Linked DNA regions of Homo sapiens: all the other regions are linked to region 2. Evidence: fine-mapped expression QTL. A gene starts in region 2. Each other region holds a variant in brackets. All regions are shown on one strand. Distances are from middle to middle.

Region 1 (6,410 bases), 34 kb after region 2:
ATTATCTCCTGGATCTGGAAAGGAAGGAAGGAAAACAAAGGGGCAAGGGGATTCTCTATAGAATGTGGATTTTTCCCACAAGAGACTTGCAGGGCAATTTCAAGCTATGGCAGGGAAATATATTTTGGGGTTAAATATTTTTTCCTTGTCTCGTAATGTTATACCAGAGTCAGATTGAAAAGTAAGTCACAATATATAAATAAAACCCATCTGATGAGAATTTAGGATTTGTAGGGCATGACTCCCTAGATCCCTTAGATAGAAATTTGGGCAAAATCAAAAATTAGAACTTAGTCCTAAAAACTCATGGGATACCATTTATTGCAGTGCTTACAGAAAATCTTTGTGACATTGTTTAAGTTAAGATTTAGATAGGACAAAAAACACAGCCCATAAAAGGAAAAAAAACCGATAAATTGGCTCTTATCAAAATTAAAAACTTCCGCTCTTTAGAAGGTACTAGTAAAAAATGAGAAGACAAACGACAGATTGGGAAAAAATATTTGCAAAACATATCACTGATGAATAACTTGTATCCAGAATAGATAAAGAATTCTTCCAACTCAATAATGAGACAAACAAGCCAATTAAAAATGGGCAAAGGATCTGAACAGAAATTTCATCAAAGAAGAGATATCCTGGCAAACAACCACATGAACACATGCTCAACATTGTTAGTCACTAGGGAAATGAAAATTTAAACCAGAATGAAATACAGTCAGCCCTCGGTATCTACGGGTTCCACATCCACGGATTCAACCAACTGCACAGTGAACACACAGATAAAAAATATTGAAAAAAATAACAATACAACAATAAAAACAATACAAATAAAAACAATACAGCATAACAACGATTTACATAGCATTTAAATTATATTAGGGATCATAAGTAATCTAGAGATAAATTAAAGTAGAGCGGGTTATGTGCCTGGGTTATATGCAAACGCTGCACTATTTTATATCAGGGACTTGAGCATGCCCGGGGTTTCCTATTTTCAGGAGTCCTGGAATCAGTCCCCAGGAATATGGAAAGATGACTGCCACAGGATACCTACTAGAATGGCTTTTAAAAAGAGGATACAGGCCAGGCACAGTGGCTCATGCCTGTAATCCCAGCATTTTGGGAGATTGAGGCAGGCGGATCACGAGGTCAAGAGATTGAGACCATCCTGGCCAACATGGTGAAACCCTGTCTCTACTAAAAATACAAAAACTAGCCAGGTGTGGTGGCACGTGTCTGTAGTCCTAGCTACTTGGGAAGCTGAGGCAGGAGAATCGCTTGAACCCAGGGGGCAGAAGTTGCACTGAGCCGAGATTGCACCACTGTACTCAAGCCTGGCAACAGAGTGAGACTCCGTCTCAAAAAAAAAAAAAAAAAAAAAAAAAAAAAAAAAAAAAAAAAAAGAGGATATAATGTGTCTGGTGAGCATGTAGCCACTTTGTTTTTGTTTTTTGTTTTCAGACAAGATCTCCCTCTGTCACCCAAGTTGGAGTGCAGTGGCTAGACCATAATTCACTACAGCCTCAAACTCCTGGGCTCAGGTGATCCTCCCATCCCTGCCTTCTGAGCAGCTGGGACTACAAGTGCCCACCACCATCCCTAGCTAATTGTTGTGTTTTTTGTAGAGACAGTGTTTCACCATGTTGCCCAGGCTGGTCTTGAACTCCTGAGCTCAAGTGATCCGCCTGCCTTGGCCTCCCAAAGTGTTTGGATTACAGGCATGTGCCACCACCCCTGGTCAAATATCTTAAATAATGTACATTTCAAAATTATCAACAGAATAAATTCCAAATGTTCTTACTACAAAAAATAAGAACAGTATTTGAGGTGATGGATATGTTAATTAGCTCAGTTTGATTATTCAACATCATATTAATACATCATAACATCACTTCATACTCCATAGATACAACTGTTATTTGTCAGTTTACAATTAAAAATAAGATTAGGCCGGGTGCAGAGGCCCATGCCTCTAATCCCAGTACTTTGGAGGCCGAGGTGGGCGGATCACTTGAGAGACCAGCCTGGCAAACGTGGAGAAAACCTGTCTCTGCTAAAAATACAGAAATTAGCCAGGCGTGGTGGTGGGCACCTGTAATCTCAGCTACTCAGGAGGCTGAGGTAGGAGAATCGTTTGAACCCGGGAGACAGAGGTTGCAGTGAGCTAAGATTGCACCACTGCACTTCAGCCTGGGCAACAGGGTGAGACTGTCTCAAAAATGAAAAATAGGCCTGGCACGGTGGCTCCTGCCTGTAATCCTAGCACTTTGAGAGGCCAAGGCAGGCAGATCACAAGGTCAGGATTTGGAGACCAGACTGGCCAGCATGGCGAAACCCCGCCTCTACTAAAAATATAAAAAATTAGCCAGGCATGGTGGTGTGTGCCTGTAATCCCAGCTACTTGGGAGGCTGAGACAGGAGAATTGCTTGAACCTGGCAGGCGGAGGTTGCAGTGAGCCAAGATCACGCCACTGCATTCCAGCCTGGGCCACAAAGTGAGACTCAGTCTCAAAAATAAATAAATAAAAATAAAATTTAAATTAAAAAAGCATTATGTTAAGTGAAGCAAGCCAGATATAGAAGGCCACATACTATGTGGTTCCACATATTTGAGATTCTGGAAAAGACAAAACTACAGAAACAGAAAACAGCTTAGTGGTTGCCGGGGGCTGGAGGTGGGAGGTAGAAAACGGAGCACAAAGAGGCAAGAGGGAAGTCCTGAGTGATGGAGGTATTACATCTTCACTGTGGGGGTATTTATATCACTGCATATATTTGTCAAAACTCATCAAACTGTTCACCTAAAAAGGGTAAATTTTGCTGTATGCAGATTATTTCTTTGCCAGACACTGTGGCTCATGCCTGTAATCCCAGCATTTTGGGAGGCAGAGGCAGGAGGATTACTTGAGCTCAGAAGTTTGAGACCAGACTGGGCAACATGGCGAAACCCTGTCTCCGCAAAAAAATACAAAAAATAAATAAATAAAATTAGCCAGGCATGGTGACACGTGCCTCTAGTTCCAGCCACTTGGGAGGCTGAGGTGGGAGGATTGCCTGAGCCCAAGGAGGTCGAGGCTGCAGTGAGCCATGATCTGCACTCCAGCCTGGGCGACAGAGTGAGACCTCGTCTCAAAAAAATATGTATTTCTTAATATACTTGAATTTTTGTGAAGAAGTGGAAGGGGCAATGGCTGTGAATCAGAAATGAGATGGCCTCTGATGTCAC[A/G]TATCTGAAATAGGGTGTCCTCCAGCTGCAGCGATGATCTGTTCCCTGGCTGAGAAGCTCCCAGGCTGCTGCAACTCCAGCAGAGGGCAAGGTCTCTTTTTCTCACCTGGCACAGGGGCACTACCAGCTGGATCATGTCCCTTGGGCCCAGGATTCGGTTTCCCAGGGCACGACAGGCACTGTTTCCCAAGTTTTCGGGGGTATGCATGTTGATACAGCAAAGAGGGCATTTATTAGGACTTGCTTATTCAATCATGTTATCAAACCCTGCAGGGAAAAGGTAGAGAAGGTAGCCACCTACCATAAAAAGGAAAAAAAGCACAAAAAATACTTAAGAACTTCTCAGCAAGGAAAAGAAATAACAGCCGGGCATGATGGTTCACACCTGTAATCCCAGCACCTTGGGAGGCCGAGGCGAGTGGATCATTTGAGGTCAGGAGTTTGAGACCAGCCTGGCCAACATGGTGAAGCCCCATCTCTACTAAAAATAAAAAAATTAGCTGGGCATGGCAGCAGGCACCTGTAGTCCCAGCTACTCAGAAGGCTGAGGCAGGAGAATTGCTTGAACCCGGGAGATGGAGGTTGCACTGAGTCGAGACAGCGCCACTGCACTCTAGCCTGGCGACAGAAAGAGACTCAGTCTCAAAACAAACAAAAAAAAGAAATGATGAATGATCACTCTAACAGGATATTGTGGTTAACTATGTTGCCAGTCAACAGCAGTAATCCAAGCTGTAGCCTTTCTGCATATTTGCAAGCTTTGGACACCTGCTTCATTTTACTCTTTGCTTCCTGAGAGGGGGCGCTTAGGACCACAGAAGTGAATGTTGTGTCCAAATTGCCTGGACCCAGATATCAGGTTCCAGTTTTGCCCTAGCACACATCTGGTGGAGGGGAAAGCATGCCAAACACGGGCTGCATCTGGTATTACAATGGTACAGGATTCCACTGGTGGCATTTTATCCAGGACTTCTGTATTCACAGCCAGGAGTAAAATTGGTCTGTGGTTATCAGCGTGAGGGTGGGTGGCGCAGGATAGCAATCTTTATCAGAGTTTGGTGTTAGGATTAGCTTAATAAAATCAATTCAGAAGCATAAAATCAATTCAGCATTTTCCCCATATGCTCTGGAAGAGTTTACATAACACAGAAATTCACTGTTCTTCCAGTTTGAAATAACTCATGCTAAAACTCCCTAGGGCTGGTGTCTTTCTTAGAGATGATAATTTTTAAATTTTCTTCTGTGGTAATTGGTCTTTTTGTGCTTTTCACTCGAGTCAATTTTGGCAATTTAGAAATACTAGAAAATTATTATTTAATGTTGGGACACTCCAATTTATAAGCATGCACTAGTTTCTTCAATTTCAAAAGTCATCTCCATGGCTGTGTTCTTATCCCTTCTAATCCCATATTTTTCTATTAATATTTTGTTGACTAGCCGATGATTTATTTATTTATTTTTGAGACAGGGCTTCACTCTGTTGCCCAGGCTGGAGTACGGCAGCACAATCTCAACTCACTGCAACCTCCACTTCCTGAGCTCAAGCAATCCTCCCACCTCAGCCTCCCAGATAGCTGAGACTATAGGCGTGCACCACCAAGCCCCGCTAATTTTTGTGTATTTTGTAGAGACAGGGTTTCACCATGTTTCCCAGGCTGATCTCAGACTCCTGGGCTCAAACGATCCACCCACCTCAGGCTCCCAAAGTGCTGAGATTACAGGCATGAGCCACGGCACCCAGCCAGTTTATCTATTGTAATTTGCCCTCTCTCTCACCCATAAAGAACAATCTAAGTCTGAATTACACTACCACACTACTTCTAGGAGGAATTAGGCTTCTCACCAATCCTTTTCAAGCTGCGGTTTCCAGGAGCCACACATGATTCTAGAGGACTCGTGGAGGAAGGAGATGATGGGATGGTTTGAACAGTGTTCTTGCCATGTTTCAGAGCACAGACCTATGGCTTCTTTCCTGGTCCCACATGCCTTTGAGGATCTGGAGGAACCTATGCCCTGTCTCCAGAAATGTGCCTGTGTTGGAATTCTGGCTCTCCCATTCACTAGCTGACGGAACTAGGGCAAGTCACATGACTTCTCTGTGCCTCAGTTTGTCCATCTACAAAATGGGAATGACAGTGTCTCCCTCATAGAGTTCTTGTGAGGATTAAATGGGCTTAACCTTTGTAGAGCATTTAGAGCAGGGCCTGGCCCATGGCTAAGTGTTGAAGAAATTAGTGAGTGTCACTAATATTATTGGCATTCCCCTGCTAGGTCTTTTCCTCTTTCTCATTCCTAGGAGGTACTTGTGACTCCTCATCTTAAGGGCCAGAATCCAAAGCTGATTCCTTGAACCAAGGCACATGGCAGGGATGATGGAAGGTTGCCCCAGAGAGGAAGAGGAAAAGAGTGAGTAGTTAGAAGGGAGTGAAGACAGGCCGAGGAAAGAGGCTGGGAGAGTTCCCTGGGCTGGGGAGGTGGTGGCTATGGTTGTGGTGGTGGCTCTGGCTCTGCTAGTAACGAGGACAGTGCCTCCTGGCAGTGCCCTGGGGAGGTGGCGAACCTCGAGGGACATGGCTGCCCATGTGCCCAAGCTTTGCAGGAAGTGGAGACACCGCCCCTGGAGGAGAGTGAATCAGCCAGGGAGCGGTGACCAGGAGGACTAAAGACCACAGGACTCCTCTCTGAAGTTCTGAAGTTCAAGGTGTCTAGGGTGGGAGTAAATGATTCAGGACTTTGACTTTCCCACCTGGTAGCCAGGGGGCTCAACGCATATTAAACGTGATTTTGAAAAAGTTTTTTTTAAAGCTATTTCACATAAAAGGAGACCAGAATCCTTACCTGCTTCCTCTGCCTTCCATATGTTGAGTTTTGTCGTTAAAGCTTTTCCAGGACTTTGCCATCCTTCTCAGAAAAGCTCAGCTGCAACTTTCAGGGTGGTGTGTGTCACAGGCACCCTTGGGTCCCAGCATCTGGCTGCTCTCCTGACCCTTATGCATGGGCTTTAGCGAGGTTCCTGGGTGTGGTCAGTGCCTCTCATTCTCTCTGGCCAGCTGGTGCCAACCCTGGCCAGGTCTGCCCACGGGCACCGCCTGCATGACTCAGTCTGGGGGATGCGAGGGGAAGTTGCAGGGAGGTGTGCAGTTGCTTTCCAACAATGCTGTGGTTGTGGTGTGGATCCGGA
Region 2 (5,000 bases):
ACTGGTAACAATTCCACTTACATGAAATATCTAGAATAAGTAAGTTCATAGGGACAGAAGGTAGATTAGAAGTTACCAAGGGCTAGGGGAAGGAGAAAATGAGGAGCTATTGCATTACTGGGGCTCAGGACACACCACTTCAAAGTATGACTGCAGGAGGCTCTTGAAATATACTTCTTTGGCATATTTTAAGCTGGTTATTCTGAGAAACTGCTGATACAGGAATAGCTCTGAAAAGCTCTCCTTTTGTAAAAAAGAAAGGCATTTATATCTTAAAAGAAAATCTACATTAGTAAAATGATCTATATTAAAAGAGGGCTGCTCCAGACAACTTTTATTATCTAAGAACTTTTAATCTACATAGCAAGACAACCTCTATTCACCAAACAGCTCCTCTCCTCACCCTCCCATAACTTGTGTTATCACCATCACCCAGAAGCTCCAAGCTCTTTTCCGTAGCTCAGGATGTTATACAGGCTTCAATCATCTGACCTTTCTTTGAGTCTCATATATTGTGGGACTCCTGAGTATACATATGTAATTAAATATGGGTTTTCCGCTGGTAATCTATTTTATGACTATTTAATTCATAGGCTATTTAATTCATAGCCCAGCCAAGGAAACTAGAAGGGTGGAGGCAAGCCATCTTTCCCTCCCCTATGGTTTAAAGAGTACAGAGTTTCTGGAGTAATGAAAAAGTTCTGGAAATAGATGGTGGTGATGGTTACACAATATTGTGAATCTACTTAATGCCACTGAATGGTACACTTATAAATGGTTAACATAGGAACTTATCCATTAGGTATATTTTACCACATTTTGTAAAATACAAAAACAGGCCGGGCATGGTGGCTCATGCCTGTAATCCCAGCACTTTGGGAGGCCGAGGTGGGTGGATCACGAGGTCAGGAGTTAGAGACCAATCTGGCCAACATAGTGAAACCCCATCTCTACTAAAAATATAAAAAATAGCCAGGTATGGTGGCGTGGCCTGTAATCCCAGCTACTCGGGAGGCTGAGGCAGGAGAATGGCGTGAACCCGGAAGGAGGAGGTTGCAGTGAGCCGAGATCGCACCATTGCACTCCAGCCTGGGCGACAGTGTGAGACTCCGTCTCAAAAACAAACAGATAAACAAACAAACAAAAAACAAAGCAAAACAAACAAACAACAACAAAAAAAAACCAAAGTGCTTAATACAGTACCTGGCACATTTGAAGTGCTCATAAATGTTACCTAGTATTGTTAAGTAATGTTATTCTTAGTTGTAATAATGTTTATAAAAGTTACTGTAATACGGTGTCCTCTGTACTTTCATGAAGGGGAGTAAAAGGGCCTGAAAGGCAGCAGAGCAAGAAACCCAAGTAGTTCCTTTGTCGGGGGAGGTGGGAGGTGGGCAGGAAAGGTGTGGCAAGAGAAGGGTTCGTTGGGGAGGCTTCCTTAAGCAGAAACCACATGAGCTGGGAGGCCTTGGCAAAGATACCTCTTCAGTCTGAGCCAGTTTCTCACCTCGGATCTGGGAAGTTGGTTTTAGTTTTGCCGTGCCTGGGACATGCCCCTGGCTCCAGGCCAGCGCAACAGGGGTACTACCTCCATCCTCCCTAATCTGAAGTCCTGCATCTGAGGCAAAGTTGAGGCAGGGCTCGAGGGTGGGCGGAAGGGCCCAGGCCCGGAGGCCACTGACCCTTCTCACCTTGCCCAACTGCTCAGTGGAGAAACCGCAGCCCAGCGAGGCCGCCCCAACTCCTCCGTGTCCTCTTTTCTACTCTATCCTACCCTCCCTTCCCTGCCCCACCCGAGACGGTCAGGACCCTGGTGTCTGGACTTCCCGCTTTGTGTCACTCTCTAGGGTACTTGACCAAATCCTCCGTTAGACCCTCTCTTCCCGCCTCTCCCCACCACAGCAAACCAACAAAGCTTAACCCCATCATCCCCTAACCCAATAGTACCTCTGTAGGGCTGGGGCTGGGGCTGGGCTGGCGGCCTTCAGAGGGGGTCTCGGGGGGAGGCATGGTGGGCTCCTGGGGCCGGGCGGGGTCCTGCTGGGGCCTCGGAGATCGGGCGGGTGCAGGCTCCATGGACCCCAGCTTAGTTTCGATTCTCGGTTTAGATCTTGGAGTGCGTGAAGAGAAGCTGAAGGGGAGGCGTGAGCCAGTTGGCTGAGTCCCTTGAGCTGTCCGAAAGGGGAGGTGCCGGCTCAGGGCCCGCCTCTGGAGAGGAAGTGAGACAGAAGCTGGGGGCGGTTCTAGGGGGCAGAGAGGCCGACTGTGGGTTTTAAAGACACGCCCAGAGCGGGGAGGAGGTAGAGGCGGAGAGCTGCAGACCTACCGCTGACTTACGGTAAAGCGGGAGAGGTAGGGCAGAGCTGCAGGGGGGCAGCCCTGCTCCCGGCTTTGATCCATTCATCCGTTCACACTGGCACTGCTTCGTGCCACGTCCTGCCGGGAGCTGGGCGTACAAAGATGAGCCACACGCAGCCCCTGCTTTCTAAGAGCCGTAGATGTAATGGAAGAGCAAGCCTGCAAACGGAGACATTCTGGAAAGGAGAGCCCACAGCTGGGACCTGCAAAAGCAGTGGAAATTCACCAGGGATTTAGGGTTGTAGGTGGTGGGGTACGGGGGACACTTGAAACAGAAAAGATAGCTCTTGCAAAAGCCTGTTTGGGAACTAATTTTGGCCATTTTCAGATTTAAGAGGGAATTCATGAGAAATGATACCCAAGGAGTGTGCTAGGACAAGATCCTAGCTGAGGAGATTGAACCAGTTCTGTGAGTGATGGGAAGTTGCTGAAGGATTTGGAACCAGGGAACAACACGATCAGCTGTGCATGATGGGACAGTCACTCTGACAACCTAGGAGCAGGTGCCCTGGTCTAGGACAGTGGCTGTGGGATGCAGAGGAGGGACTTGATTCAGAGATCCTGGGAAGCCAGTGACTGGAGGTGAGGGAGCAGGATGATGCCTTGAGTGACAGCTGGAAAGGCTGGTGGATCTGAGGTGGTGGGGGCAGGAGGGAGGGGGAGAGCTGGAGAGCGGGTATGAAGAGGGTGAGGGGAGAGCCAGCTAGGTCTTCGCCAATGGAAAAGCATGTCAGACTCCCAGCTGGTAAGGGGAAAGGGGCACAGTTCCAGGTGACCTCACTGGGTCAGCGCCCCGGCTTCAAACTTAAACCATCGCAACCACTGTGCTGGCTCCTGTGTACCCATTCCGTACTCTGTTCCAACTTAGAAACAGACTAGAAAGGATGATGATAGGGCCTGGCTCTTGTAAACCTTACAGTCTGCAGGGTGGAGAGCAGGGGTTGGGCAGATACGCAACTTCCTAGGGACTGTAAGGCCTCAGGAGCCTGCCCTTCCCTCCAGCCTGGTCAGTACTCCCAGGCCTTTAGAGAATCAGTCCATGAAAGCCAAATATGGTGGGCAGCCATCTGCACAAGGGACCTGGAAGTGGGCTATGGCAGGATGGGGCTTCGGAGGCCAGAGGCGATTGGCTGAGGAGGCAGAGCTGGGGAAGCTTTATTCATTTCTTTGCTTGCTTTGGAAGATAGCCTGCTCCCAGACTACCCCAAAGTCCTGTTGGAAGTTAACACTTCTCAAAGGAAATTCACGAGTTGCATTCAGGTTTTCTCAAGCCCTGGAGAGGCAAGTTAATTCCAGGTACCTGGATCAAGGGGCATGCTCTTTCTGGACCTGCAGGACTGAGGGCCTCACCTCTGTGGTGCTCTGGGGCCCCTGCCCTCATGTAGCTCTGTGCTATCCCCTTCTTCCTTACACTCCCATGCTCCCCGAAGTCTGCATGTGAAACTTCTTTCTTTTTGTGCCAAAGTTCAGGCCTTCCTACTCCACCTTGATCACGGTGACCTGGCCAGGCCATTACTTAACAAATAAGTATTGAGACCTGCCCTATGCCAGTCCCTGCTTGCTGGGCTGTGGGTTCACAAAGAGGAATAATTTGCAGACTATGTCCCAGAGAAACCCAAAGTCCAGATATGGCATGTCCTGCCTCCAGTGTGAGAGAAGGAGTGCTGAGAAGGCTGATATAGCATGTCCTTGATCCTGGAGAAGATTGGCTTCCTGTAAACCCTGATGAGATCTTGCTCTCTCGCTCCGACTGCAGTGCAGTGGCACGATCATAGCTCACTGCAGCCTCAAACTCCTGGACTCAAGAGATCCTCCCGCCTCAGCCTCCCAAGTGGCTGGGACCACAGGCAGGCATCCCACGCCAGGCTAATTTTTAAAAATTTTTTGTAGAGATGGGCTCTCACTATGTTGCTCAGGATGGTCCTGAATTCCTGGCCTCAAGCGATCCTCCTGCCTGAGTCTCCCAAATTGATGGATTATAGGAGTGAGCCACCGTGCCCAGCTTCCCCTCCAGCTTTTCTAGGGCTGAGTAGGAGAAGAGGGGAGGAGGCGATGACCCCAGCGGGGTCCGAGGAACGCCGATCACACCCAGTAGCCCTGGGCTGCAGTTCGGTCCTCCCAGCGCAGGGGGAGCCATGCGACGGCGGAAGCGGGCCCCGGCCGGCCTCCTCTTCCTGCGCCCGCGCCGCCGCGGGTGGCCGCGCGGGTGAAGCCGGAAGCAGCAGCCAGGAGGGCGGGGCCGCGTAGGGCCCACTGGCCAGGGAGGGCGCCGCGCGGAGGCGCGGGGCGTGTCTCCTGTCAAAAGCCATGCTCGGCAGGTCTGGGTACCGGGCGCTGCCCCTGGGTGATTTTGACCGCTTCCAGCAGTCGAGCTTCGGCTTTCTGGGCTCGCAGAAGGGCTGCTTGTCCCCGGAGCGGGGCGGCGTGGGGACAGGGGCCGGTGAGTGGCCGCCTGGCACGGCGGAGCCGGGGGGGACCGGCCGGCAACCCCCAGGCCCGAATCTCTGCCTCCGAGGAGTCGGCCGGCCCGGTGCCGTCGCACCCTACGAGGGGGGACTGAGAAAGGGATACGATGTGGAGAGGGGGCTGGACCCGGCGCCTGGTGCTAGCGCCGATCCGCCCTCCCTAGGGTCATGGGGCTT
Region 3 (6,410 bases), 26 kb after region 2:
TCTCCCTGGTAGCTGGGATTACAGGTGCCCACCACCATGCCTGGCTAATTTTTTGTATTTTTAGTAGAGATGGGGTTTCACCATGTTGACCAGGCAGGTCTCGAGCCCCTGACCTCAGGTGATTCACCCACCTCGGCCTCCCAAAGTGCAGGGATTACAGGCGTGAGCCACCGCGCCCTGCCAAAGAATAATATTTTTAATAAACTTAGTGTAGTAGCCTAGGTGACAGTGTCTTTAAAGTCTACAGTAGTGTACAGTATTGTCCTAGGCCTCCACATTCATTCACCACTCACTCACGGACTCACCCAGAGCAACTTCCAGTCCTGCAAGCTCCATTCATGGTAAGTACCCTAAACAGGTGTACATTTTAAATATTTTATATGATATTTTTACTGTGCCTTTTCTATGTTTAGCTATGTTTAGATACACAAATACTTATTATTGTATTATAATTGCCTACAGTATTCGGTACAGTCACGTGCTGTACAGGTTTGTAGCCTAGGAGCAATAGTCTATCTCTTATAGCCTAAGTGTGTAGCAGGCTACACATCACAGAGTGTGTAAGGACACTCTCTGATGTTTGTACAACATTGAAATCACCTAATGACACATTTTTCTGATGGTATTCCTGTGGTTAACAGATACATGACTGTGCTCCAAGAGTTAACATCTAGTCTACAAATTCTTTTCAAAAGTAATGAAATTCTTATGAACACTGCATTTAATAATTAAAGAGGCCAATAGAGAATTAATGACATAAATTAACAATCGATGACACTTTGTAGACATTTGATTAAACATTTATTAATTTGGATGATTCTGTAGTTTTTACATTTTGGAGCCAAGACTTTTCTCAGGTTTTAAACATTTATTTAGGTCCCTGAGAAGCTCATGGGCTTTCAGCATGTCCTCTGAGACCACTTTACCTGAAAGATAAGTGGCCTGATGTCACCTACCCATAGGAAAGCTATGAAGAATAAAAATTAGATACTAGATGAAAGCACTTAGCATAGTGTCTAGTAAACACTGAGCACCTAATTAGAAGTAGTAGATGTTAGTAAATGTATCTGCACACATGTACGCACAAACTCATTGATTCACTCAAACATTTTTTATTGGGCACTCACTATGTGCTGGGCAAGGCAATGTTCTAGGTGCCAAGGATATAGTAGGGAACAAACCCACCAAGAACCCTGTCCTTGTGGAATTTACATTCTAGTTGTGAGAGCTAGACATAAGCAATAAGCATTAAAAATCAGAAAGGAGGCCGGGTGCATTGACTCCTGCTTGTAATCCCAGCTCTTTGGGAGGCTGAGGTGGGAGGATAGCTTGAGCCCGGGAGTTTGAGGCTGCAGTGAGCTAGGACCACACCACTGCACTCCAAGCCTGGGCAACAGAGTGAGTCTCTGTCTCACACACATATATATATGTGTGTGTGTGTGTGTGTGTATATGTATATACATATAGGTATATACGTACGTATATACATATATATATATAGAGAGAGAGAGAGTGAGAAACAGAGAGAGAGAGAAAAATAAGAAAGGCATACAGTATGTTAGAAGGCCATGAATGCCTTGGGAGAGGGCCTGGCATGTTCTAGAACAGCAAGGAGGCCATTGTGGCTGGGATGGAGAGAGGGAGGAGAGTGGCAGAAGACCAGGCCAGAGGGGAAATGGGGCCAGCTCATGTAGGGCCTGGTAGGCCACAGGAAGGGCTGTGTTCAGTGGGAGCCCCTGCAGGGTTCTAAGCAGAGGAACATGAGGGACTGAACATACACGTGCACCATGGCCAGACCCTGTGGAAACTAGAACTCTGAGCCTAACCTGCAGCAAGCTGCCCAGGAAACCAACCCCCTCATCTGGAATCCACAGCCCAGGATGCCAGTCTGCTATAAGTCAGACATGAAGGAAGCCAGATCACTATCTCCAGTAGCCATCCAGGAAGCAAAACAATAACTTCTCTAACAATCAGCCCCGAAAGGCCAGGACTTGATTAAAAACTGGCAGCTTCCCTAATTTTTGTCCCAGCTTCCAACTTAGGGCCAGCAAGAGAAAGCCAAATATGCACCCACCCCTCCCCAGCCAATCTCAGAATCCCCTCCAAATTATCCCACCCAGCTTCTCCAGGCCAATAGCCTCCAATCAGGGCACACCCCAAGCCTTCCCCCACCTCCTTTCCCGCACCCCTACCCCCGGCCCACCGACAATAAGGCTCAGCCTGATTTTGAGTCCCTACAAAAATGCAAGTGATGCTGGCTGACAACCTTGCTACAGCAAGCTCTGAATGGTTTTTGTTTATTTCTACAAATGGTAGGATCTGTCTTACGAAGCTGCTTTATTGAGAATAGATTGTATGTAAAAGCAGACCCATTAAGAAACTGTTCCAAGACTCCATCTCAAAAAAAAAAAAAAAAAAAAAAAAAAAAAAAAAAAAAAAGCGGCTGTTGCAATAATCCAGGCAAGAAAAGAGAGTGGTGTGGACCAGGCTGGTAGCAGGGCGGGAGGTGGACTCTGGTTATTTGTATTCTAAGTTGTTAATTTTGAAATAATTGTAGGGTCACAGAAGGTCACAAAGGAATGTAGAGAGAAGTCCCATGTTCCCTACCTCTCATGCGAACAACTCACATAACCAGAGTACAGTATCAAAACGAAGAAATGGAACATCGGCACAATCCATTGAGTTTATTCAGATCTAACCAGTTATGCACGCACCCATTTGTGTGTGTGTTTGTGTGTGCCTGTAGGAAATGGGAAATCATGTATATAGTGAGAAAAATAGAGTTGGCCTTTGTCCCTGGTTCTTGGCACAGATCTTTTAAAACCCTCCTAAAATTTCCTGAGTTACAGTGATGTTTTGTTATTCATAACAAACCCCTTTCAACCATACCTGAGCTTATGTTAATGAGGACCCTAAATAGTTTCTGGATACAGGCTGCTGATCAGAAAGACTAAGCCATGATTGATGATGAGAGAGTTGGAACTTTCAGCCTCACTCTCTGACCTCCAGGGAGTGGACAGTGGCTAGGGATGGAGTTCAGTCACCAATGACCAATGATTTCATCAATCATGCCTCTGTAATGGAACCTTCATAAAGTTCCAAAACAATGGAGTTTGGAGAGCTTCTGGGTTGGAACACATGGAGATGCTGGAGGGGTGACGCCCAGAGCAGGCAGGGAGGCTCTGCACACCCACCCTACAATACCCAGTCCTATGCATCTCTTCACTTGGCTGTTCCTGAGTTGTATCTTTTACAATAGACCAGTAATGGTGAAGTAATGTGTTTTTTTGAGTTCTGTGAGCCATTCTAGCAAATTATCAAACCTGAGGAATGGAGGTCACGGGAACCTCCAAATTTGTAGTTGGCTGGACAGAAGTGTGGGTAACCTGGGGACCCAGTACTTGTGACTGGCATGTGAAATGGGGGTAGTTTTGTTTTGTTTTGTTTTG[T/CT]TTTTTTGGAGACATCGAGTCTCACTCTGTCACCCAGGCTGGAGTGCAGTGGCACGATCTCGGCTCACACAACCTCCGCCTCTGGGTTCAAGCAATTATCCTGTCTCAGCCCCCCAAGTAGCTGGGATTACAGGCACTCGCCACCACTCCTGGCTAATTTTTGTACTTTTAGTAGAGATGAGGTTTCACCATGTTGGCCAGGCTGGACTCGAACTCCTGACCTCAGGTGATCCGCCTGCCTCGGCTTCCCAAAGTTCTGGGATTACAGGCATGAGCCACCACACCCAGCCATTTTTTTTTTTTTTGAGATGGAGTTTCACTCTTGTTGCCCAGGCTGGAGTGCAATGGCGTGACCTCAGCTCACTGCAACCTCCACCTCCTGGGTTCAAGCAATTCTTCTGCCTCAGCCTCCCGAGTAGCTGGGATTACAGGTGCCCGCCACCAGGCCTGGCTAATTTTTGTATTTTTAGTAGAGACAGGGTTTCACCATGTTGGCCAGGCTGGTCTCGAACTCCTGACCTCAGGTGATCCGCCCGCCTCAGCCTCCCAAAGTGCTGGGATTACAGGTGTGAGCCACTGCGCCTGGGAGAAATGGGGGTAGTCTTATGGGACTGAGCCCTTCAGCCTGTGGAGTCTGACACTAACTCCAGGTTAGTATCAGAATAGAATTGAATTATTGAACACCCAATTGGTATCACAGAAGCAGAAAATCGATTGGTGTTGGAAATGATACCACTTATTTGGTATCAGCACAAAGACCACAAAAAAGCTTTTTTTTTTTTTTTTTTTTGAGACAGAGTCTCACTCTGTTTTCAGGCTGAAGTGCAGTGGCACAATCTTGGCTCACTGCAACCTCCTCCTCCCGGGTTAAAGCAATTCTTCTGCCTCAGCCTCCTGAGTAGCTGGGATTACAGGCACACACTGCCACACCCGGCTAATTTTTGTATTTTTAGTAGAGACGGGGTTTCACCGTGTTGGCCAGGTTGGTCTCGACCTCCTGACCTCGTCATCCCCCCACCTCAGCCTCCCAAAGTGCTGGAATTACAGATGTGAGCCGTCGCACCCAGCCAACCACAAAGTAGCTCTATGTAAATTTGCCCTATGTGTAGCCTGGAGTAGCCACCAGAATGACCGAGGTGCTCAACTGTACCATCACCACAAAGCCTCTCGTGTAACCCCTTTACAGCCACACCCTCCCCTCCCTTCTGATATGGTACTGATCTGGGTCCCCACCAAACCGGGTGGAGTTCTCATGAATGGATTAGCACCATGAGATCTAGTTGTTCAAAAGTGTGTAGCACCTCCCATCTCTTTTCCTCCTGCTCTGGCCATGTAAGTGGTGCCTGCCTCCTCCTTTGCCCTCCCCATGGTTGTAAGTTCCCTGAGGCCTCCCCAGAAGCTGAAGCCACCACGCTTCCTGTACAGACTGCAGAACCATGAGCCAATTAAACCTTTTGTCTTTATAAATTACCCAGTCTCAGGTATTTCTTTATAGAAAGAGGAGAACGGACTAATACACATTCCTAACTCCTGACAACCACTAGTCTATTCCCTCTCTAATTATATTATTTGCCGTGTAAATAGAATCATGCAGTGATGTATCCTTTTGAGGCTGGCTTTTTCACTCAGCAAAAGTTCATCCAAGTTGTTGCTTGTACCAATAGTTCATTCCTTCTACAGCAGAATAGTATCCTGTGGTATGAATATACCATAGTTTGTGAGTATTTTCTGGTTTAGGGCTATTATAAATAAAGCTTCTATGAACATTTGTGTACAAGTTCCACCATGAAAATAAGTTTTCATTTCTCTGGGAAAAATGCATGACAGTGCAATTGCCGGGTTTTATGATAAGTCCATTTTTATTTTTGAAAGGAACTGGTTATATTTTGAACATGGGGCCAACAGGATTATCTGACAAATTGAACGTGGGTTTGAGAGAAAAGAGGAGTCAGGGATGGTTCTAAATGAAAGCATGCTGGAACACAGTAAGGGCTTGGTAAATGTCAGCTGCACAAGTGGTAGCAAATACAGCTGCAATCATGAAAGAAATGAGAAAAACCACGAGGCACTGTAAGCCATGAGACATTGCCCTAGAAGGCATTTAGAGTCACTCATTTGCATATGTTAAAAGTGAAAGAGAAGAGTGTTTTATTTCCTCTTAGGATATAGAAAAACCACAAGGGAACATCATTCCCATTCTTTTCTGGGGGGGCTCCAGTGATCATCCCACCTCAGCCTCCTGAGTAGCTGGGACTACAGGCTCCTGTCGCCATGTCTGGCTAATTTTTTTTTTTTTTTTTTTTTTTTTTTTGTAGAGACAGGGTTTCCCCATGTTGCTCAGGCTGGCTGGTCTTGAACTCCAGGGCTCAAAGGGTCCACCCACCTCACCCCCGAAAGTGCTGGGAGTACAGGAATGAACCACCCCGCCCCCCGACTCTAACAATAACAAAACACCAGATAATTTGCAAAACCATAATTTCTTAAACCAGTCAGATAGCTGAGGTGGCAGGCAACCAAGAGAACTGAATTCCAAAGAGTGACAAGCCCCTCCAAGGAAAGGCAAGACCAACTGTCTTGGGCAGAGCATGTGGTGGGCAGGAGGGAGTCTGCCCTGCCTTCTGAGCTTTTTGCACAGGCCTTCACTGCAGGAAAAAGACTGGAGGCAGAGGGGGAGCCGGGAGAGACCCCTCCCCCTTGCTGGTGGCACAAGCACTCAAGCGGTGATTGACTGCTGTGCAGCGACCCCCACCTGCTTCCCCAGGACGATTCTCTCTGGGCAAAACCACGTGGGAGGCTGCACTCTCTGGCCCCAGGGCTGCTGCGGGAGAGGCAGAAACGAAGATCCACTGCTTCTGGGGCAGGATCAAAGTAAACACCACTTGCCCCTGTGGGAGGCGCAGGACGCACTCTCCTGTGTTAAACCCACAGGAGATAGAAGGCACGACAGGAGGGACAGGAGCA
Region 4 (6,410 bases), 24 kb before region 2:
GGTGAGCCCAGATGGTGCCATTGCACTCCAGCCTGGGCAACAAGAGCAAAACTCCGTCTCAAAAAAAAGAAAGAAATAAATCAAGTCATATAATTACTTTGAACTTCCTCCTCTCAACGAACTTTCACTCAGAGCATTCCTCTAGGTGCATAGGCACAGATCAGATGTATTCTCTTTAATAGCTCTGGTATATCCCAGATGGGCCACAATTGATTCAATCACTGTCGTTTTGCTGGCATTCAGGTAATTTCCTGTTTGTGCATTTTCTTTCTTTCGTTTTCCTTTCCTTTTTTTTTTCTTTTGGTGCCAATATGGACAACACTTTAGTAATATCCAAGTTATATAGCCTAATCATGGAAGCTTTTGTTCCTATGAAATAGATTATAAATATAGGCCTGCTAGATCAAAGTGTTTGTATTTTAATATTTTTATTTGGTTATTTTTTTTTTGAGATGGAGTTTCGCTCTTGTTGCCCAGGCTGGAGTGCAATGGCACCATCTCAGCTTACCGCAACCTCTGCCTCCCGGGTTCAAGCAATTCTCCTGCCTCAGCCTCCCGAGTAGCTGGGATTACAAGCATGCGCCACCACCCCGGCTAATTTTGTATTTTTAGTAGAGACGAGGTTTCTCCATGTTGGTCAGGCTGGTCTTGAACTCCCGACCTCAGGTGATCCACCCGCCCCAGCCTCCCAAAGTGCTGGGATTACAGGTGTGAGCCACCGTGCCTGGCCTGGTTAATATATTTTAGCTAGCAGATACTTCCATAGCATTTATTGTGTCTCAGATACTATTATAAGCATTGGCAAATATTTACTCATTCAATCCTCCTGACAATCCAGTGGAATAGATACCATTATTATCCCCATTTTAAGGATGAGAAAACTGGTGCAAGAGGCAAAATAATTTGTTCAAGATCACACGATTAGTAAGTGGTAGAGTCTAGATGCAAACTGTAGTAGCAGAATAGTGGCCTCTAAAGATGTCCACGTGCAAATTCCTGAGACCTGTGAATATGTCACCTTACTATGGCAAAAGGGTCTTTGCAGGTGTTATTCAATTAAGGACTTTGAGATAAAGAGATTATTCTAGATTATCTGGGTGGGTTCAACGTAATCACGTGAATCCTTTCAAAGGAAAGGGCAGGGAGGCAGGAGAATGAGAGGAGATGTGATGTGATGAATGCAGAGGTGGGAATGTTGTGATGTTGCCGGCTTTGAAGACAGAAAGGGGCCATGCACCAAGGAATGTGGGCAGCCTCTAGAAGCTGGGAAAGGCAAGAAAACGTTCTCCCTGAGAGCCTCCCAAAGGAGCAAAGCCTGCTGACACCTTTATATACCTCAGTGAGACCTGTTTCAGACTTCTTACCTCCAGAACCATAACAGAATACATTTACATTGTTTTAAGCCCCTAAATTTGTGGTAGTTTGTTACAGCAGCGAAAGAAAATATAAAAACCCAGGCAGTCCAGCTTAGAGTCCATGTTCTTAACCATTACAAGGCTGCTTCTTCAAATATTACCAGGGAAAATACTGTTAGTTCCCCAGAAATATTGCTGTAATTTACTCTCACCGGCAGTGATAAGAATAAGTCTTGGTGGTGTGCGCCTGTAATCCCAGCTACTTGGGAGGCTGAGGTGGGAGAACTGCTTGAACCCAGGAGGTGGAGGTTACAGTAAGCCAAAATTGCACCACTGTACTCCAGCCTGGCCAACAGAGCAAGACTCCATCTCAAAAAAAAAAAAAAAAAAAAGGAATAAGTCAGCCCACCTGAGGCCAGAAGAAAGGGTCTCATCTGGGACTACACTGAGATCAACTTGTTCTGGAACCACCAACAGAGAGCCTACTAGCCAGCCAGACTGATACATAGTGCTCATCAATGCTACGTTTAATTAGAAATACTAAGCAATTATGAAAAGAACTAATAACTCTACAGAAGGCAATTTGGCAATACCCATCAGAATTACAAATGCATTTAACCCAGCAATCCTCTTTCTTTGGATCTGCTCTGCAGCTCTATCTCTACACATAACAAGATGATATCCATACAATATATTCACTGCAGCACAGTCCACAATAGCAAAGAATTAGAAGCCACCCACGTGTCCCTCACAAGGCAATTAGTTACATAAATTATGATCCACCCATACAACGGAATACTATGTAGCTGTAAGCCATTGAGGAAGCTCTTTATATACTGATAAGGAAAATTCTCCATGGAGAAATGAGGTTAATAATAGGAGTACTGGAAGGATTAAATGAGTTAATATATGGATAAAAGTTTGAAAAATGACTGGCATACAATGAGTGTTCAATAAATGCTAACTATTTGTATTATTATGATATATATTTTAAGTTAGAAATCAAGGTGCAGAAATGTGTGTATCAGATGCTACCTTTTGTGTAAGAATGGGGAAAAATAAGAATATCTTCATAGTTGATTGTATTTGAATAAATAAATATTAAAAGGACATGCAAATTAATAAAAGTGGCTATGGGATGGGTGGAATGAGGGTAGAGTAAGACATTCACTGCATACCTTTTTAGATTATGTTTGAGCCTTGTGAATGTATGAATGTATTCCTTTTTTTGAAATTAAAAAACAGAATACTAATAAATGTGGGCAATTCTATAGGGTATAGGAATAAAGGGAAGAGAATAAGAAACAGTTGTTATTTTCCCCCTTTGGATCTTGGACACTTGGGGAGAGGGGCTGTGTCTGATGTTGGATCCCCTTCCTTGGAGACAGGGTTCCAAGCCTGGAAGGGCACGCCTCAGGCAGCCTGGCTGGATAGAGAGCAAGACGTTCTGGATGGCCATAGCCTCCGCTGGGTCCTTTTTCTAAGCTTCTTTTGTCCTGAATGGGGTCTCCCTAGGGTGACTGGCCCCTGCTTTCCCTCTAGATGGAAATGGGCGGCAAGTGTCTGTGAGGTGGCTAGCCTGAATCAGACACCTGGGTCTAAAAGCCCCCAGCCCTCTGGTAAGACTGAGGTGCAGATCCTGAATCAAAGGGCTGCCACCCAGGGCCAGGAATGACCTTAGCCAAGCGGTTCCTTTACCTTCATTCAGAGGACACTCACTGAGTACCTGCTGCGTGCTTGGCACTTTGGAGGAGGCAGAGGTGAAGTGGGAAACTGCCCAGAAGGGCTCCGTGACAAGAACCCAGACTTAACCGTATCTTCAGAAAGGCGAAATAACATCTATTTGCTTCTGGAATACTCAAAACAATAAGCAAAAACACCACTAACTTAATAAGAAATTGCTCACCAAAGTGGCTAGATTACATAATAATTAAGAAAGAAAAATAGCATAATTCTATCTTAGCAAAGCAAATGAGAAGAAATATGGGAAAAAAATCCATCTTCCCATTCACAGCAGCTATTTAAAAAATTCTACAAAGCCATGATTGTGTGCCTATAGTCCCAGCTACTAGGGAGGCTGTGGTGAGAGGATTGCCTACACCCAGGAGTTCCAGGCCAGCCTGGGCAACTCAGCAAGAACTCCATCTCTAAAAAACTTTTTTTAAATTAAAAAAAAGAAGGTACAAAATACCTAGAAAATGACAAAAACCTACTAAGAGATAAGACTAAATATTATAAGATTATTAATTCTCCTTGAGTTAATAAACAGGTTTAAGGCAATTTAAATTATTTTTGAAACTTAACCAAAGTATTCTAAATTTCTTTTCTTTCTTTTTCTTTTCTTTTTTTTTTTTTTT[G/TG]AGACTGAGTCTCACTCTGTTGCCCAGGCTGGAGTGCAGTGGCACAATCTTGGCTCACTGCAATCTCTGCCTCCCTGGTTCAAGTGATTCTTGTGCCTCAGCCTCCCAAGTAGCTGGGACTACAGGTGTGAGCCACCATGCCTGGCTAATTTTTTTTGTATTTTTAGTAGAGCTGGGGTTTCACCATGTTGGCCAGGCTGGTCTCGAACTCCTGATCTCAGGTGATCCACCCGCCTCAGCCTCCCAGAAGTGCTGGGATTACAGGCGTGAGCCACCACGCCTGGCTAGGTTTCTAAATTTCATATGAAGGAACAAACAGATAAAATAGCTAAGAAAAAAATTTTTAATTTTATAGAGACAGAGTCTCAACATTTTGCCCAGGCTGGTCTCAAACTCCTGGGCTCAAGTCATCCTTCCACCTTGGCCCCAAAAGTGCTGCGATTTCAGGCCTAAGCCACTATGACCAGCTGCTAAGAAATGTTTGAGGAATCAGTGTAAGGAAGGGATAACACATTATAGAAATGCCATTATTAAGAGAATATGGTACTAGTTCAAGAGTCAAGAGAAGGATCAGTAGAACAGACCAGATAGGCCTGATGTAGTCCCTGGCATCTATAGAAATGTAATATTTTATATAACAAAGAAAGCAACCCATCTTTTTCTCTTTTTTCTTTTTGAGAGAGTCTCACTGTGTCACCCAAGCTGGAGTGCAGTGGCGTGATCTCAACTCATTGCAACCTCCACCTCCTGGGTTCAAGCGATTCTCCTGCCTCAGCCTCCCAAGCAGCCGGAACTACAGGTGTACGCCACCACACCTGGCTAATTCTTTTGTATTTTCAGTAGAGACAGGGTTTCACCATGCCGGCCAGGCTGGTCTCGATCTCCTGACCTCAGGTGATCCGCCAGCCCCTGCCTCCCAAAGTGCTGGGATCACAGGCGTGAGCCACTGCGCCCAGCCAGCAGCCCAAACTGATGGACATTAAAGGGGTTTTCAACAATTGGAATCAGAGAAATTGGCTAGGGAGGAGGGTAGGGGGCAGGAATGAAGTTAGAGCCTTGCTTCTTGTTTCATACCCATATATGCTTCCAATGAATCACAAAGTTAAATGTGTAAAATTACATCTCGAAGGAGAAAACACAGTGGACTATTTACTCTCACCATAGTAAAGACACTATAATTACTGAAGAAATAAAAGAAACCATACAATCAATAGATGCCACTGCCCGGCCGGGCGCGGCGGCTCATGCCTGTAATCCCAGCACTTTGGGAGGCCGAGGTGGGTGGATCACGAGGTCAGGAGATCGAGACCATCCTGGCTAACATGGTGAAACCCCATCTCTACTAAAAAATACAAAAAATTGGCCGGGCATGGTGGCATGTGCCTGTAGTCCCAGCTACTCAGGAGGCTGAGGCAGGAGAATGGCATGAACCCGGGAGGCGGAGCTTGCAGTGAGCCAAGATCGCACCACTGCACTCCAGCCTGGGCGACAGAGCGAGACTCCATCTCAAAAAAAAAAAAAAAAAAAAAAGATGCCACTGCCTAAAAAATTCAAAACTGTATATTTTTTTGAAAGATCTTCATGACTATTTATAAGAAAAGCAAGTTATACAACACTAAATGTTGTTCATTTTGTTTTAGATGATCACAGAGATAGCAAAAAGGAAAGGAAAAGGTCTAGAGTGATAGTAGTTTCCTCTTTCTCTCATCCCTCCTTTTCACCTATTTAGATTTTCCTAAACTTTCTATAATCAATTCTAAGTAAAGGAGTTTGGACTTTAAATAGGAAGCAATGGGGAACACTCAAAGAACATCCCATCTAGGTATTACAACAAAGCTCTTTCTCGTCTCTGGGATGTATTGTTTCATTTATCCCTTTATGATTATTCAGTGAAATAGCCACACTGTTAATTTTTTTTTCAGAGACAGGGTCTTGCTATGTTGCCCAGGCTGGACTTGAATTCTTGGGCTCATGTGATCTTCTCACCTCAGCCTCCTGAGTAGTGTATTTTATTTTATTTATTTATTTTTATTTATTTATTTATTTTGAGATGGAGTCTCGCTCTGTTACCAGGCTGGAGTAAAGTGGGGCAATCTCGGCTCATTGCAACCTCTGCCTCCTGGGTTCAAGTGATTCTCCTGCCTCAGCCTCCTGAGTAGCTGGGACTATAGGCGTGCACCACCACACTCAGCTAATTTTTGTATTTTTAGTAGACACAGGGTTTCACCATGTTGGCCAGGATGGTCTCAATCTCTTGACCTCGTGATCTGCCCACCTCGGCCTCCCAAATTGCTGGGATTACAGGCATGAGCCATCTCGCCTGGCCGAGTAGTGTATTTTAATAGAAGCCTCAACGTGTTTCCTGGGTTCTCAGTCTCCCCATCCTAAAGCTGTCCATGTCTAAACTGCTATGCCAAGAGTGGTATGTGTTAGCTCTTCCAAATTTCTAGCTACAAGGCCTTGAGCAAATTACCTTTTCTCTCTGAGTCTTAATTTCCCCACCTGTAGAATGGGAGTAATAATGCTTCCCTTATAGACTGTTACAAGCACAAAGACAGGCTGGTGTATGTGAAGGACTCAGCACAGTGCTATGTAGTCATTGGACATTCTGGAGCTATGAAAGAAGAGGGGGTATTACACATGGCACAGGACATCCCTGCTGTTGGGTGAACCTGTCAATGTCAGATTTGGGGTGTCC

The links. PIP is the estimated chance that this variant, and not a neighbour inherited with it, causes the effect.
Region 1: its variant is fine-mapped to the expression of PML in whole blood (TOPMed, PIP above 0.99).
Region 3: its variant is fine-mapped to the expression of PML in whole blood (INTERVAL, PIP 0.93).
Region 4: its variant is fine-mapped to the expression of PML in whole blood (INTERVAL, PIP 0.96).

What each region holds. Positions count from the first base shown.
Region 1 is chr15:73,956,887-73,963,296 of GRCh38, reverse strand. No RefSeq gene overlaps it. Among named protein-coding and RNA genes, the nearest start is that of LOXL1-AS1, 32 kb to the right of the region's middle. RefSeq lists an enhancer at 5,358-6,410. The variant A/G (reference allele first, on the strand shown) is at 3,230.
Region 2 is chr15:73,991,889-73,996,888 of GRCh38, reverse strand. PML (PML nuclear body scaffold) reads right to left here and starts at 2,173. Exons shown (of 9, transcript NM_033238.3): 1 at 1,948-2,173. The coding sequence starts at 2,076. It overlaps STOML1 (stomatin like 1), which reads left to right and starts at 4,594. Exons shown (of 7, transcript NM_004809.5): 1 at 4,594-4,798. The coding sequence starts at 4,666. RefSeq lists an enhancer at 1,591-1,760 and a silencer at 4,368-4,927.
Region 3 is chr15:73,965,081-73,971,490 of GRCh38, reverse strand. No RefSeq gene overlaps it. Among named protein-coding and RNA genes, the nearest start is that of STOML1, 24 kb to the left of the region's middle. RefSeq lists a silencer at 5,416-5,565. The variant T/CT (reference allele first, on the strand shown) is at 3,450.
Region 4 is chr15:74,015,625-74,022,034 of GRCh38, reverse strand. The region is part of intron 2 of PML (PML nuclear body scaffold); the gene reads right to left. Among named protein-coding and RNA genes, the nearest start is that of PML, 24 kb to the right of the region's middle. RefSeq lists a silencer at 2,676-2,846. The variant G/TG (reference allele first, on the strand shown) is at 3,713.